2 linked regions of the Homo sapiens genome follow. The protein of the gene in region 1 purifies or fractionates together with the protein of each later gene. This does not show direct contact. Each region holds a gene or a part of one and is shown on either strand. Other genes may lie near its edges.

Region 1 (6,926 bases):
ATAGACATTCTGATTCTTTTCTCACTGTACACTCTCTCCCCAGGTGATCACATACCACACCCCAGCCCCACCCCCATGATCTCATTTCATCTTCAACAACCCCTAACTAAGAGATGTCTCAAATATACTTCTCACATGCTAAAATTAGTGGGAAAAAACTTAATGAGAATTAGGAAAGTAGATACACTTAGAGTATCTTCCACAATTACAGACAGAAAAGGAATTTTATAGTGGAAAAGCCTGACAGATACCATCTTAATCAAGTGATCAGAACTATCACTAGTAATAACAAAAAGATCACGTGCCCTGGTAAGGTTCACAGAGAAGAATTCAACATTACTTCTGCAGTATTCCAGCCAAAAATGCATGTGCTAAATTTTAATCATAAAGAAACATCAGACAAACCCAGATTGAGGGACATTCTACAAAATAAATGTCTGTAACTTCAAAATTACCAAAGTCATGAAAGACAAAGAAAATCTAGGAAACTATTTCAAGTTAATGGAGAACAAAGAAATATAACAACTGAATGCAACACGTCATCCTAGATTGGATCCTGGACCAGAAGATATTTCTTTTCATTTTATATATATGATAGTAGTGGAACAATTGGCAAATTTTGAATAAGGTCTGTAGATTAGATAATAGTACCGTATCTGTGTTCATTTCTAGAGTCTGACAGTTATATTCCGGCTATGTGAGAAAATTTTTTTTTTTAAGTAAATATACATCAGTCAGGATTCTCCAGGGAAACAGAACGAATGGTAGATATTTTGATAGATAGTTTTATTATAAAAAATTGGCTTTTTGATTATGGAAGCTAATAAATCCCAAGATCCCCAAGATCTTCAGGGTAAGTTGGCAAGCTGGAGACCCAGGAGAACTGATGATATAGTTCCAGTCCAAGTTCAAAGGCCTGAGAACCAATGGTGTAGTTCCAGTCCAAAGGCCGAGTCTAAGACCCAGATGGAGCCAGTGTTTACTTCTGAGTCTGAAGGCTGAGAAAAGCCAATGTCCGGGTCTCAAAGCAGTCAGGCAGAAGGAAGTCTCTCTTACTCCGGAGTGGGTCAGTCTTTTGTTCTAGTCAAGCTTTCAACTGGTTGGATGGGACCCACCTATATTAGGGAGGGCAATTTACTCAGTCTCCAATTCAAATGTTAATCTCATTCAAAATACTCTCACAGAAGCACCCATATTTGGCCAAATATCTGAGCACCAATCCTCTAGAAGTTGGGACATTAACCATCACAGGCCGTGCGTGGTGGCTCACGCCTCTAATCCCAGCACTTTGGGAGGCTGAGGTGGGTGGATCACCTGAGGTCAGGAGTTTGAGACCAGCCTGGCCAACATGGTGAAACCCCCCTCTCCACTAAAAATACAAAAATTAGCCAGGCGCCATTGTCCACGCCTGTAATCCCAGCTACTCAGGAGGCGGAGGCACAAGAATCACTTGAACCCAGGAGACAGAGGTTGCAGTAAGCCAAGATTGCATCACTGCACTCCAGCCTGGGCGACAGAGTGAGACTCCATCTCAAAAAAAAAAAAAAAGTTAACCATCACAGGTAGAGTTTAATAGGCTTTATCTCTGAAACTTAGTCTCAAACAGTCCAGAAAATAATTATATATTTGTAGATAGGTACATACAAATAAAACAAACAGTGAATTGTTAATATTTGGGTAATCTAGGTATCAGGATAAAGGATATACAGGAATTATTTGAACTGTTTTTTTTAACTTTAGATGCACAAACCTTGTAATTATCCTTGACACTTTCCCTCCCACAACCAAGCCATTACCACACCCTGTAGGTTTTACTTTCCTAATATACATCCTGTAGCCACAATTTCTCTCCATTTCCACCACCACCACCACCACCTTGGTCCAAATCATCATCATCTCTCACCTAGACTGCTACAGTAACCTCCCAACTTGTCTCCCTGTTTCCACTCTTGCCTCCTCTACAATCCATTCTCCACCCTGAAGCCAGTGATCTTTGCAGAATACAAACTTAAAGTCAGCTAAATGCAATGCATGATCCTTGATTGGTTTCTGAAAATTAAACATTTATAATGTTTACTTAGACTGTGCTGCTATTACAAAATACCACTGACTGGGTAATTTATAAACAGAAATGTATTTTCTCACAGTTCTGGAGGCTGGGAAGTCCAAGATTACGGCACTGGCAGGTTTGGTATCTAGTGAAGGCCAGTTCCTCATAGATACGCCATCGAGGTGACCTTACATGGCAGAAGGGACAGAAGGGGCCAACTTACCCCCTCAAGCTCTTTCAAAAGGCGTTAGTCCATTCTTGAGGGTGGAGCCCTCATAGCCTTATTACCTCCTAAAGGCCCCACCACTTAATACCAACACCATGGATTAATTTTCAACATGAATTCTGGAGGAGACATATTCAAACTATAGTAGACACCAATGAGACAGTTGGGGAAATCTGAATATCAACTGTATGTGATTATAGTATTGTATGAATGTTAAATGTCTTGGATGTGGTAATGGTATTGTGGATATGTATGAAAATGTCCTTGTTCTTAGGAGATACACATTGAAAGTACATAGCAATTAAGTGTAAAGAATTTTGTGGGGCCAGGCGCAGTGGCTCACGCCTATAATCCCAGCATTTTGGGAGGCCGAGGCGGACTGATGACCTGAGTCAAGACCAGCCTGACCAACATGGAGAAACCCCGTCTCCACTAAAAACACAAAATTAGCCAGAGTGGTGGCGCACGCCTGTAATCCCAGCTACATGGGAGGCTGAGGCAAGCAAATCGCTTGAACCCAGGAGGCGGAGGTTGCTGTGAGCCAAGATCGCACCATTGCACTCCAGCCTAGGCAACAAGAGCGAAACTCCATCTCAAAAAAAAAAAAAAGAATTTTGTGGCTGGGTGCAGTGGCTCACGCCTGTAATCCCATCACTTTGGGAGGCTGAGGCAGGCAGATCACTTGAGGTCAGGAGTTCCAGAGCAGGAGGATCACTTGAGGTCAGGAGTTCCAGACCAGCCTGGCCAACATGGTGAAACCCCATCTCTACTAGAAATGCAAAAAAATTTAGCCAGGTATGGTGGCACCAGCCTGTAGTCCCAGCTACTCAGGAGGCTGAGGCAGGAGAATCACTTGAACCCAGAAGGTGGAGGTTGCAGTGGGCCAAGATGGCGCCACTGCACTCCAGTCTGGGCAACAGAGTGAGACTCTGTTTAAAAAAAAAAAAAAAAAGAATTTTGGGCCAGGCGCAGTGGCTCACGCCTGTAATCCCTGTAATCCTGGGTGGCCGAGGAGGGTGGATCACCTGAGGTTGGGAGTTCCAGACCAGCCTGATCAACATGGAGAAACCCCGTCTCTACTAAAAATACAAAATTAGCCGGGCATGTTGGCACATGCCTGTAATCCCAGCTAATCAGGAGGCTGAGGCAGGAGACTTGCTTGAACCCAGGAGGCAGAGGTTGCAGTGAGCCAAGATCACGCCATTGCACTCCAGCCTGGGCAAGAAGAGCAAAACTCCATCTCAAAAAAAAATAAATAAATAAGATTTCTGCACCTAACTCAAGTGATTCAGCAGAAATAATTATTATTATTTCATTATTATTATACACACATACATTAAAAGAGATACAAAGCCAAGTCTGGCAAAATCTTATCAGTGAACCTAGGTGAAGAGTGGATAAATGGGTTGCTCATTGTATTAATCTTGCAAATTTTCTGGAAGTTTTAATTTTTTTTAAAGGCTAGGGAAAACAGTGTATGTCATAGTTTAAATTTCTTGAGTGTGATAAGGTTATTGTGGTTATGTATGAGAATATCTTTGTTCTTAGGAGATACATATTGGAGTAGTTAGGGGTGAAATGTCATGCTATCTGCAACTTACTTTCAAATGGTTCATCCAAAAAAGCATATAAATATATTTTAAAGTATATGTAAAGTACTTAAATATATGAGTATATATGTACAAGTATAAAATAAATATAAATGCAAAAAATGGTGGGTCAAGTGAAAGGTAGAGGGTGTTGCTTTGAACTATTCAACTTTTCTGTGGCTTTGACATTTTTCAAAATGAGAAGTTGGGGAAAAACATTTAGAAATATGTAAATATATTAAGGATACAAAATAAAATTTAAATAATTTTACAAGTTAAGAATCATCCTGGAAAAATTACATCCTGTTACATCCCTGCTTAAAACCTCAGTAGCTTCCCACTACTTCTAGGATAAAGACAAAATTGCCTAACAAGGGCTACAAGGCCTGGGGTGGTCTGGCCCGTTCCTCTCCTCCTGGTACCCTACTCATCACCATCAGCTGCCCCCTAGGCTCCAACCACACATAACCACACCCTAACTACACCAGAAGGAAAGACTCCCTCAAAATTCTCTCTCCTCCTGTCCTTTACACATGCAGCTACCAAAGCCAAAACCTCACTATGAGGGACTGAGAAATGGATTCTCATGTTGTTTCTGCTGAACTGTTTCCCTAAATCTCGGAAATATTCTCTGCCCGCCTCCCATTCCACCTCTCCAACCCCGGCCAAGTCTGGGTAACTTGCCTCCTTAGCATCCTGTGTTTATCTCATCGTAGCACCTAGTACCCAGTATTGCAATTGTCCGCTCACTTGTTAGTCTTCAGTGCTCTGTTGTCTCCTTGAAAACAGGGCCTGACTTGACTCCCCAGTCCCCAGCACTAGTCTGGGGCACAGTAATTATGTATTCAATCAGACTTCCATTTTCTTGCATATAAAATAAAGGAGTTGGGCTGGATGATCTACAAGATCTATTGGCAGTAAAATAGATCTAATAATCCCAATCCCAACTGCGCGTGAATTCCCTTTTTCTTTGCATTGCTGGGTTCAGACTTTCTGACCACCTTACCAGTGGGGAGAATCCGAGACTACAGTTCCCATGAGCCCTCAGGGCACCACGTGGTGCCTGCCCGTGCTACCAACGCGCAGCGAGGACTCCATTTCCCAGCGTGCCTCAGGAAGGGCGCCAGGACTGCATTTTGCTCCGGAGCGTCCAGAGTCCTGGCCCTGAGCGGGAATCGCAGTGGCCGAGGCTGAGCGGCAGGTAGAAGGGGCGTCTCCGGGGCTTCACAGGGAACACAGGGGCTTCGGCCCAACCACAAGTACGCAGTTGCACATGCCCTACTTTTGCCCATTCTTTGCAAATCCCCTAAGGAACGAACGCGCCTCGCGTGCGGGCCTTTCTAATCTTCGCTTGTCCCTTCACTTCCACAGCTGGAGGTCGAATTCACCACGTCACGTAGAGAAAAGGGGCGGTGTCTCGGGTCTCCCCGTGTGGCATCAAGGCGGGCTCCCTATAGGAGCTGGTGTGGACGTCCGGGCGTGGGGTTAGGGCGGATGCGGGGATCGCGGGGCGGGTGTTGACATTGTGCTCTCACCAGGCGGATCGCCCCGACCCTCACTCCTGGCGTCTGAGTCTCTGGCGTAGCCCATGCTGAGTGGGCGGCTGGTCCTGGGTCTGGTCTCCATGGCTGGCCGCGTTTGTTTGTGCCAGGGCAGCGCGGGATCCGGGGCCATCGGTCCGGTGGAGGCCGCCATTCGCACGAAGTTGGAGGAGGCCCTGAGCCCCGAGGTGCTAGAGCTTCGCAACGAGAGCGGTGGCCACGCGGTCCCGCCTGGCAGTGAGACTCACTTCCGCGTGGCTGTGGTGAGCTCTCGTTTCGAGGGACTGAGCCCCCTACAACGACACCGGCTGGTCCACGCAGCGCTGGCCGAGGAGCTGGGAGGTCCGGTCCATGCGCTGGCCATCCAGGCACGGACCCCCGCCCAGTGGAGAGAGAACTCTCAGCTGGACACTAGCCCCCCATGCCTGGGTGGGAACAAGAAAACTCTAGGAACCCCCTGAACCCCAAGAGAGGGAGGACCAGGATCCGAATGGGCTGGGTGAGCACGAATTACCGAGGCCTTCCCTTTGATACAGTCCAGGATTTGTAAGGGATGAAGACCCCTGGGCCCCATTCTGTTGGGGTCCATACATACTCTCCGAAGATAGCAACTTGCTTCAGGTCAAAGTGAACCCGAGAAAAGAGAAGAATCACTCACTACTGCTCTTGCCCTGGACTATTCAGGAAGGGCAGCCCGGATGTTCCATGTTAAATCGTGACAGAATTGCACCAGACCTGATGAGTTGGAAACAATCCTATACATTAAAAGAAATTACACTATGAGGCTGTGTTCTTAATGGACTGCTGAATCAGTGCCACAGGTGTTCTTGGGAGAAGAAAGATACTTGTAGACTAGTCGGGAAGGGCTTTATGAGGGAAGTGATCTAGTTGGATCTTTAAAGGAAAGCACAAAATTAACCAGAAAGGAGAGGATAGGTGCTGCAGGCAGGGAGAAGAACCTGAGCAAAGACATAGACGCTGGACTGAGAAGTGAGTTAATGGACAAGACAGGGGATATAGGCAGGGACACATTTGAATTTCATCTTGAGGGGGGGAATGTTTGGCTTTTTTACAGCCTGTTCATTTCCAAAAAGTAGTATTTGTATTTGTTTAAAAGAAAAATGTTTTTAAAAACCACTAAAGCAGTGAAAAGAGGATAAGAACTAAGAAAATGATTACAGATGATGAAGAAACCTTTATATAGCCTTTTTTTTCTTTTCTTTTCTTTTCTTTTTTTTTTTTGAGATGGAGTTTCGCTCTTGTTGCCCAGGCTGCAGTGCAATGGCACGATCTCGGCTCACTGCCATCTCCGCCTCCTGGGTTCAAGCGATTCTTCTGCCTCAGCCTCCCCAGTAGCTGGGATTACAGGCATGCACCACCACACCCAGCTATTTTTTTGTATTTTTAGTAGAGATGGGGTTTCACCATGTTGACCAGGATGGTCTCAAACTCCTGACCTCAGGTGATCCTCCTGCCTCAGCCTCCCAAAATGCTGGGATTACAGGCGTGAGCCACTACCC
Region 2 (7,251 bases), on another chromosome or scaffold:
AGAAACATCTAAAAGGATATTCACAAAAATGTTAGCAGGGTTATCTCTGTAATTTTGGATAAAACTGCTTTATTTTTGTGAACTTCTCTATACTGTTTAGGTGTTTTAGAACAAACAGGCACCAATTTTATAAAAACAATAGGTTCTTTCCTAAGACAGCCTTGTGGCTGGGTGCAGTGGCTCACACCTGTAATCCCAACACTTTGGGAGATCTAGGCGGAGGACAGCTTGAAATCTAGGAGTTTGAGACCAGTCTGGTCAACGTAGCGAGAAGCCATCACTACAAAAAATAAAAAATTCTAAAAAACAAAGATGGCCTTGGAAATGAAGGAAGGTACAAAAGGGGATGGAGAGGAGAGAGGAAGTGAAGGAGGAACAGACATAATGAAGCATATGAAGTGGCCAGAAATAGGTGGATTGGTGCCTACCTGGGGGGTGAATGAGAAGACTCTGGATCAGGTTTTTCTGCCCCCTGTGTCTCAGAATGCTGCTGAGAAAATGAGTTGGGAGGCTGCTGCTTCTGCTCATCTGAAGACCTTAGCCCCACAGCTGAAGCATGGAAGGCACGCGGCACCAGGGCTTGTCGGCAACGGGCCACTGAAACAGAAACTGGTCAGTCAGGGACATTCAACAGAGAAGACCCTTTCAGACCCAGAGTGGTAACACAGATAAGGAGGAGGAAAAGCAGGCCAGAGACTCCTGTAGAACCACTTATCCAAGTGTTGGGTCCCACACAAAAATATTGGGTAAACTGGGAACTTTGGGACACGAAGTGGTAGCAAAAGTGGTAAGCCAGGAAAAATGATCTACCTAGCATCTTGACCTGTTTCTACCACTTGTTACCTGGGTAACTGGCAAACAATTTCACCCCAATGTGCAGATTTTTAAATCTGCAAATTTAGAGTAATAATCTCTACTTGCTCAATGAGAGCACTGTGTGGCCCAAACAAAAAGTAAAAGTGGCTTGCAAATGTTACAGATTTATATATATTATGGCAAGAGCTCTGGAATAGTAATTTAATGTCTCAGCCCTACTCCCCCAGTGTTTATATGGTATCTTTGGACAAGTCACTAATCTCTATCTGCTTTCTCATCTGCAATATCTGCAACATCTCCATTTACTTTAAGAAAGATGAGAAGTATGTTTCCTAAGCATAAACTCATAGTATTTTTTATTTCCCAACATTTTTTATTCTAAAAATTTTCTTTTTTTTTTTTTTTTTTGTCAGAGTCTCACTCTGTCGGCCAAGCTGGAGTGCAGTGAGATTATCTCGGCTCACTGCAACCTCTGCCTCCCAGGCTCAAGTGATTCTCGTGCCTCAGCCTCCCGAGTAGCTGGGATCACAGGCACCCGCCACCACTCTCAGGCTCACTTTTGTATTTTTAGTAGAGACGGAGTTTCGCCATGTTGGCCAGGCTGGTCTCAAACTCCTGACCTCAAGTGATCGCCCGTCTTGGCCTCCCAAAGTGCTAGGATTACAGGCGTGAGCCATCATGCCCAGCCTATTATAAAAATTTTCAAACACGCAAATTGAAAGAATTATGGAATGAACACCTGTATATCTGCCACTAGGTTCAACACATCTGTCATGTTCTTCATTCATCCATCTTGATTTTCAGTGCATTTGTTGCAGATATCAGTATTATTCACCTCTAAACATTTTAGCATCAAAGACTTCTACGTTCACTGTTTTGTTATTCAGATGCCATTTACACACAATGAAATGCATAAATCTTAAGTGTACCATTCTATGAGTTTTGACAAATGTATACACTTGCACAACCTAAACCCAATCTAAACAGAGAACATTACTGTCACCCCAGAAAGTTCCCTTATGCCTTTTCAGTCATTCCCCATTCATACTGTTCTGAATTTTTCACTCTAGGTTAGTTTTTGCTTGTCTTAGTTTTGCCTGTCCTAAGATTTCATCTATATGTACATGTTTCAGTAAAGCTTCTTTCACTTAGGACTATATATGTGTGTGTATATATATATATTTATTTATTTTAAGTTTAAATAGAGACAGAGTCTTGCTATGTTGCCCAAGATGGTCTTGAACTCCTCGGCTCAAGCAACCCTCCCACCTCAGCTTCCCAAAGTGCTGGGATTACAGGTGTGAGCCACCACACCTGGACCACTTAGTATATTTTTGAGATTGATCCATATTTTTATGCCTATCAGTATATCTGGCAAAGATTCTCTCCTTGATCAGGCTCTAACCAGGCTCCTCTGAGCCCTCTTCTTATCTAGGCCTCAACCTTGGCCTATAAAGACTTGAACACACACTAACATAAGCATCACTCAGGGCCACATCCCTTAAGATAACCCTACCCCCCTTTAAAGTGCCTGCCTGAGAAAACTCAAGGCTGTCAAAAAAAATTTTACTGTTTGTTCAGGCTAACACTTAAGAAGGATAGGGCTTGTCTCCCTGTGGGAAAACAGAATCCTAACTTTGTTAACTGCCAGCTAGCAGACCAATCTTATTTATAATTATTCACTATCCTGACTCTACTGAGTCCCCACCTGCCTTCCTCCCTCCTCCCTCATTTTTTCTTTGAAACACCCAGTGACTTCTGCATGCTCTAAACTCAAGGTTGGGCTCCGTTCATGCTAGACTCTTTTCCCTATTGCAATAGTTATTACTGATTAAAAATGGTCCTTATCACTTTAGTGTCCAGCTTTCTCTTTGACTGATTTTTAGTTTTTATTGCAGAATAGTATTCCATAAAAAAAATACTATTCTGTTGCTAGACAACTGGACTGTTTCTGTGTTTGGCTACTATGAATAAAATTGCTATGAATATACTTGTACTAACTTTTTTGTAGACACATACCTTCATTTCTCTTGGTGGATTTGCGGGGTCATAGACATTACTTTTACTACACATCTTTAGTTTGGAATTTTGTATAAATACAACAAAAGGGGGCTAGGCGGTGGCTCATACCTGTAATCCCAACACTTTGGGAGGCTGAGGCAGGCAGATAACTTGAGGTCAGGAGTTTTGGACTAGCCTGGCCAACATGGTGAAACCCCGTCTACTAAAAATAAAAAATTAGCTGGGCATGGTGGCACAACCCCAGCTACTAGGAAGGCTGAGGCAGGAGAATCACTTGAACCCAGGAGGTAGAGGCTGCAGTGAGCCGAGATTGTACCACTGCACTCCAGCCTGGGTGACAGAGTGAGACTCTGTCTCAACAACAAAATTAAGCCAAGTAGGGTGGCACGCACTTGTAGTCCCAGCTCCTTGGGAGGCTGAGGAGCCAGACCCTGTCTCAGAAAAAAAAAAAAAAGAAAAAAAAGAAACAGAATAGTATGTGCCAAAATATCAATATTTTAATACATGTACTGAAAGATACGGCACAAATATCCGCAAAACTTTGAAAAGGAAGGAGCAGATGCAAAGTATGACTGTAGTACCACTGAGGGTCATGAGAAGATTTTAGGTGAAATACAGGTGAACGTTTCATCAGTTATGTATGTATGCTAAAGTGTTAATGCATACGTTCTAATTAAGGAAGGCGATATTAGTTTTCCATTTATGACAATGATATAAAGTTTCCTCTTTAAGAACTCCTATTTAAAAATAAAAATACTGAGTACATAGTGGCAAAGGTGGTAAGAGAGTATCACAGAATTCGTGAAGTGGTGAGGAAACGGCTGGCTTTCGGGAAACAATGGACTAGGCTCTCTGTGGCCGTGTCCACCTGTCCTTCCAGTGGACTTGGCAATGGACTTGAGAATGGGTCTGCGACTGCCAGTTCTGTAACCAACAGGCTCAGGCTGCGTGACTTTCGTACCCCGAGCCCTCTCTGAGGCTCTGCCAACTCCATGAAATGGGGGTGACAGGCCCTGCCCCGCTGCATCTGCCCCTCACAGACAGCGGAGCAGGGCCGAAGCTAGCCAGGCGGCTCGCCCGAGCCCGCGCCGATGCCCTTCACCTCACCTTGCTCGTGGGCCGCCCCAACGGCCTCTTCCCCCCACCGTCGAACCCAGCTGAAGCCGGCCTCGCGCCCCCTCCGCGCTCCCCGCCTCTCCCCGGCTTGGCAGCCCCCTCACCGGGCAGGCATCGCAGCTGCAGGAGCCTCCAGCCCGCCCGGCCAAGCGCACCAGATACCGCCGCCGCCGCCATTTTGGAAGCGGGCACGTCGCCCACGGCGACGCGACCGGTAGCTACGGGACCACGGCCCTAAGGAGGGCGGAAGTCGTCGCTCCGTGGAGCCTCCTCCTCTCGCGAGAGGCGCAAGGCGTGGAGTCGACGGCTGGAGAGAAGCCGGGAGCGAGCCCAGGCGGCAGGTGAGAGTGGTGGGGGCCAGCTGAGCGCCAGAGCTCCCTCAACTGTCCCCTCCCGGCCCACCCTCGTTCCCACATCCTCTCATTTTCTCTTCCCACCCCGTTCCTCGATGGGAACGCAGCCACGGCCGCCCCGCTGAAAGCCCCGGCTGGTTTATTCCTGAGAAGTCGGTGTGAGGGGCCAGGGCCGGCCCTAACCTCCCTGGGGTCCTGACTGGGAATTTCTGCCGTTCCCCGGCTGCCTCGTCCCTTGCGCAGCCGGCCCTACTCTGAGGCCCCGGGGACACCACGCTGAGGAGAAACGGCTCCGAGCTTGGGATCGGGGAGACCTGGTTCTGAGACCCGGTCCTACCAGTAGCCAATCGTTGTGACCTTGGGCCTCAGTCCCCGTGACGTTTTGGTCCCTGGGGGTTCCTGGCAGCAAAGCACGAAAGCCTTGGAGTCGGGGGGTACCTGAGCTCACGATTGTAATTTCGAACCTGCAACTTGTCCGAACCCCCAGCGTGTTGAGTTGATATAATTAAGTATCCAGATCGGAAGGATGCTTGTTACTAGAACAGACAGCTAGGCCTTTGTCCAGAAGGATTGATTGAGTGGGTCTGGGTGTGGTCCAGGAATCTCATTTTAACCACTCCCTCGGGTGATTTGTAGGATCTGCAAGTTCGGGAAAGGCTGGTGCCCTTCATTCTGACATTACTGAGTGCCAAGCTCTGGATGGCTCAAGGAGGTCACGGTCTAGCCACTAACAGAGCACTTCACGGGGGTGTCATCAGAGAAGGCTTAGTAGGAAGAAGTAAACGGTTTTTGGGCTAAGAGTAACTGACGACAAGAGCATGTGATTCTGTCGATTTTGTGTTTGCAGTCAGACCCCATCATTGTGTCTGTTAAAGTTGTGCTTTGCACACCCCTTGTCAAATCTAGTCTTTTCAGAATATCCGGCTCCCCCCTGCACGGGTGCGGGGAAGACCTCCTAAGCCAAAACTTACCCCAAAGGTTAAAATTTTAGATCCATATTTCTGGTTTTAGGTAAAACACTCCTCTCCATAAGGATTTGTTTCTGAGTTCTATCCATCCATCTTTGAATGAGCCTTTCCTGTGGAAACTAACATTTGGGTATCCTTTCTGAAACCCTAATTCCTGACACACGCCAAATGCCTGGAGACGTTCCTGTTTCATTGTTGATTCTCACTTTTTAAAAAAAATTCTGGGCCAGGCTCATGCCTGTAATCCCAGCACTTTGGGAGGCTGCGGCGTGTGGATCACTTGAGCTCAGGAGTTCGAGACCAGCCTGGGCAACATGGCGAAACCGCATCTCTACAAAGAATACAAAAATTAGCTGGGTGTGGTGGTGGGTGCCTGTAATCCCAGCTATTTGGGAGGCTGAGGCGGGAGAATCGCTTGAACCCCGGAGTCGGAGGTTGCAGTGAGCCAAGATTGTGCCATTGCACTCCAGCCTGGGCAACAGAGCAAGACTCTGCCAAAAAAAAAAAAAAAAAAAAAAAAAAAAAAACCTCTAAGGTCTTAGTCTAAGTGTCTAGACAGAGCGTTCTCTTGAGGGCAGGGAACAAGTGTCTTCTTGTCTGTCTCCCGTGTAGGGACAGGCACATAGTAGGTTTCTTAGGTCTCATTTGCAGGTTGTAATTGTGCCTTCCTACCATTCTGCTAAAGCTGGCAGGGAAACTGAGGCCCAGAGAGGGGCAATGGCTGACTTGGATTGCACAGCAGGCTGGTTAGGCCCACTTGGTACTGGTCACCCAGAGGCCAGGCAGTGACATGTATGTGCACAAGAGCTTCAGTTAGTTAATTTTATGTTTTTAATTTAATTTTTTTTTATTTTGAGATGGAGTCTCACTCTGTCTCCCTGGCTGGAGTGCAGTGGCAAGATCTTGGTCCACTACAACGTCCGCCTCCTGAGTTCAAGCAATTCTGCCTACCTCAGTCTACCAAGTAGCTGGGATTACAGGTGCACGCCACCATGCCCAGCTAATCTTTGTATTTTTAGTAGAGACGGGTTTTCTCCATGTTGGCCAGGCTGGTCTTGAACTCCTGACCTCAGGTGATCCACTTGCTTCAGCCTCCCAAAGTGTGGGATTACAGGTGTGAGTCACTGCACCCAGCCCAGTTAGTTAATTTTAATTAGGATTTTCCTTTCTGATAACTGTCAGTATTCTTGGAACTCTTTTATGCACCCGAGTTAAAGAATTTTTTGAACTGAAGCCCAAACTTCAGTGTTATTTTTTGCTTTTGTCCCCTTTCACCAGAAGAGAGACCAAATGCCTCAAGATTTGATGCTTACTGGGCACCTAAAAAACAGTCTGTTCTCAGACATCCGCTTTTACTGCCTGCCAGTAACATTTTAGAAGGGCCATGCACATGTGTGTGCCTCAGTCAGAGTTGGAGAGGTACCCAACAAGCTCAGTGACGTGACAATGATGCTACCTCTTATTATGAAACTGGGTCCTGACTCACAGCTTCTAAGCATGTTGTCTTAGATACTGGACACTTTTTCCTTACGGGTTTTTTTGTTTTAAAAGACAAATTCACAACAGCAACATAAAATTCTGATGATGAAAAGTATCACACTTTGGCTTTAGATATTTAAAAGAATATTATCTCCTATTTTATTTGAAAAATGCTGACTGAAAGTAGTGGCTATGCCTGTTTTTTGAGGGTTGATGTTTAATGAATGTAGTTCATAAGCTCCTCTTGCCATAAGATTAGTTTTGGGAGATACGGAACGCAAAGCATTTTACATTCTTCTAATTTACTGACACAGTCCCACTGGAGTACTGTCCAAAGATCATAAAGCGCAGCTCTTACACTAATTCTAACAATGAAAAAGCAGGTTCCCATCACTCCCTGGAGTGTCCTCCTATCAGGCATGGCTAAGGAGAAGCAGGGTTTTATAGGACTGCTTGAAGCAAAGGCAGGTAAACTAGCCACAGAGAAGTGGAAGCCC

The links. The genes of interacting proteins can lie anywhere in the genome.
Region 2: the proteins of BOLA1 (region 1) and CIAPIN1 purify together in Homo sapiens (affinity purification with mass spectrometry; 3 studies listed by BioGRID and IntAct, with this or other methods). This does not show direct contact.

The regions. Positions count from the first base shown.
Region 1 is NC_000001.11:149,894,607-149,901,532, forward strand, and holds BOLA1 (bolA-like protein 1), read left to right. Parts: upstream 1-4,961; 5' UTR 4,962-5,066; exon of another isoform or gene 5,067-5,124; intron 5,125-5,236; exon of another isoform or gene 5,237-5,403; 5' UTR 5,404-5,453; coding exon 5,454-5,867; 3' UTR 5,868-6,189; downstream 6,190-6,926. UniProt on the Homo sapiens protein: Acts as a mitochondrial iron-sulfur (Fe-S) cluster assembly factor that facilitates (Fe-S) cluster insertion into a subset of mitochondrial proteins. Probably acts together with the monothiol glutaredoxin GLRX5. May protect cells against oxidative stress.
Region 2 is NC_000016.10:57,444,386-57,451,636, reverse strand, and holds the start of CIAPIN1 (anamorsin), read left to right. Parts: upstream 1-4,251; 5' UTR 4,252-4,295; intron 4,296-7,251. Other genes in the region: COQ9 (ubiquinone biosynthesis protein COQ9, mitochondrial precursor), read right to left, coding at 429-597, 4,059-4,131. UniProt on the Homo sapiens protein: Component of the cytosolic iron-sulfur (Fe-S) protein assembly (CIA) machinery required for the maturation of extramitochondrial Fe-S proteins.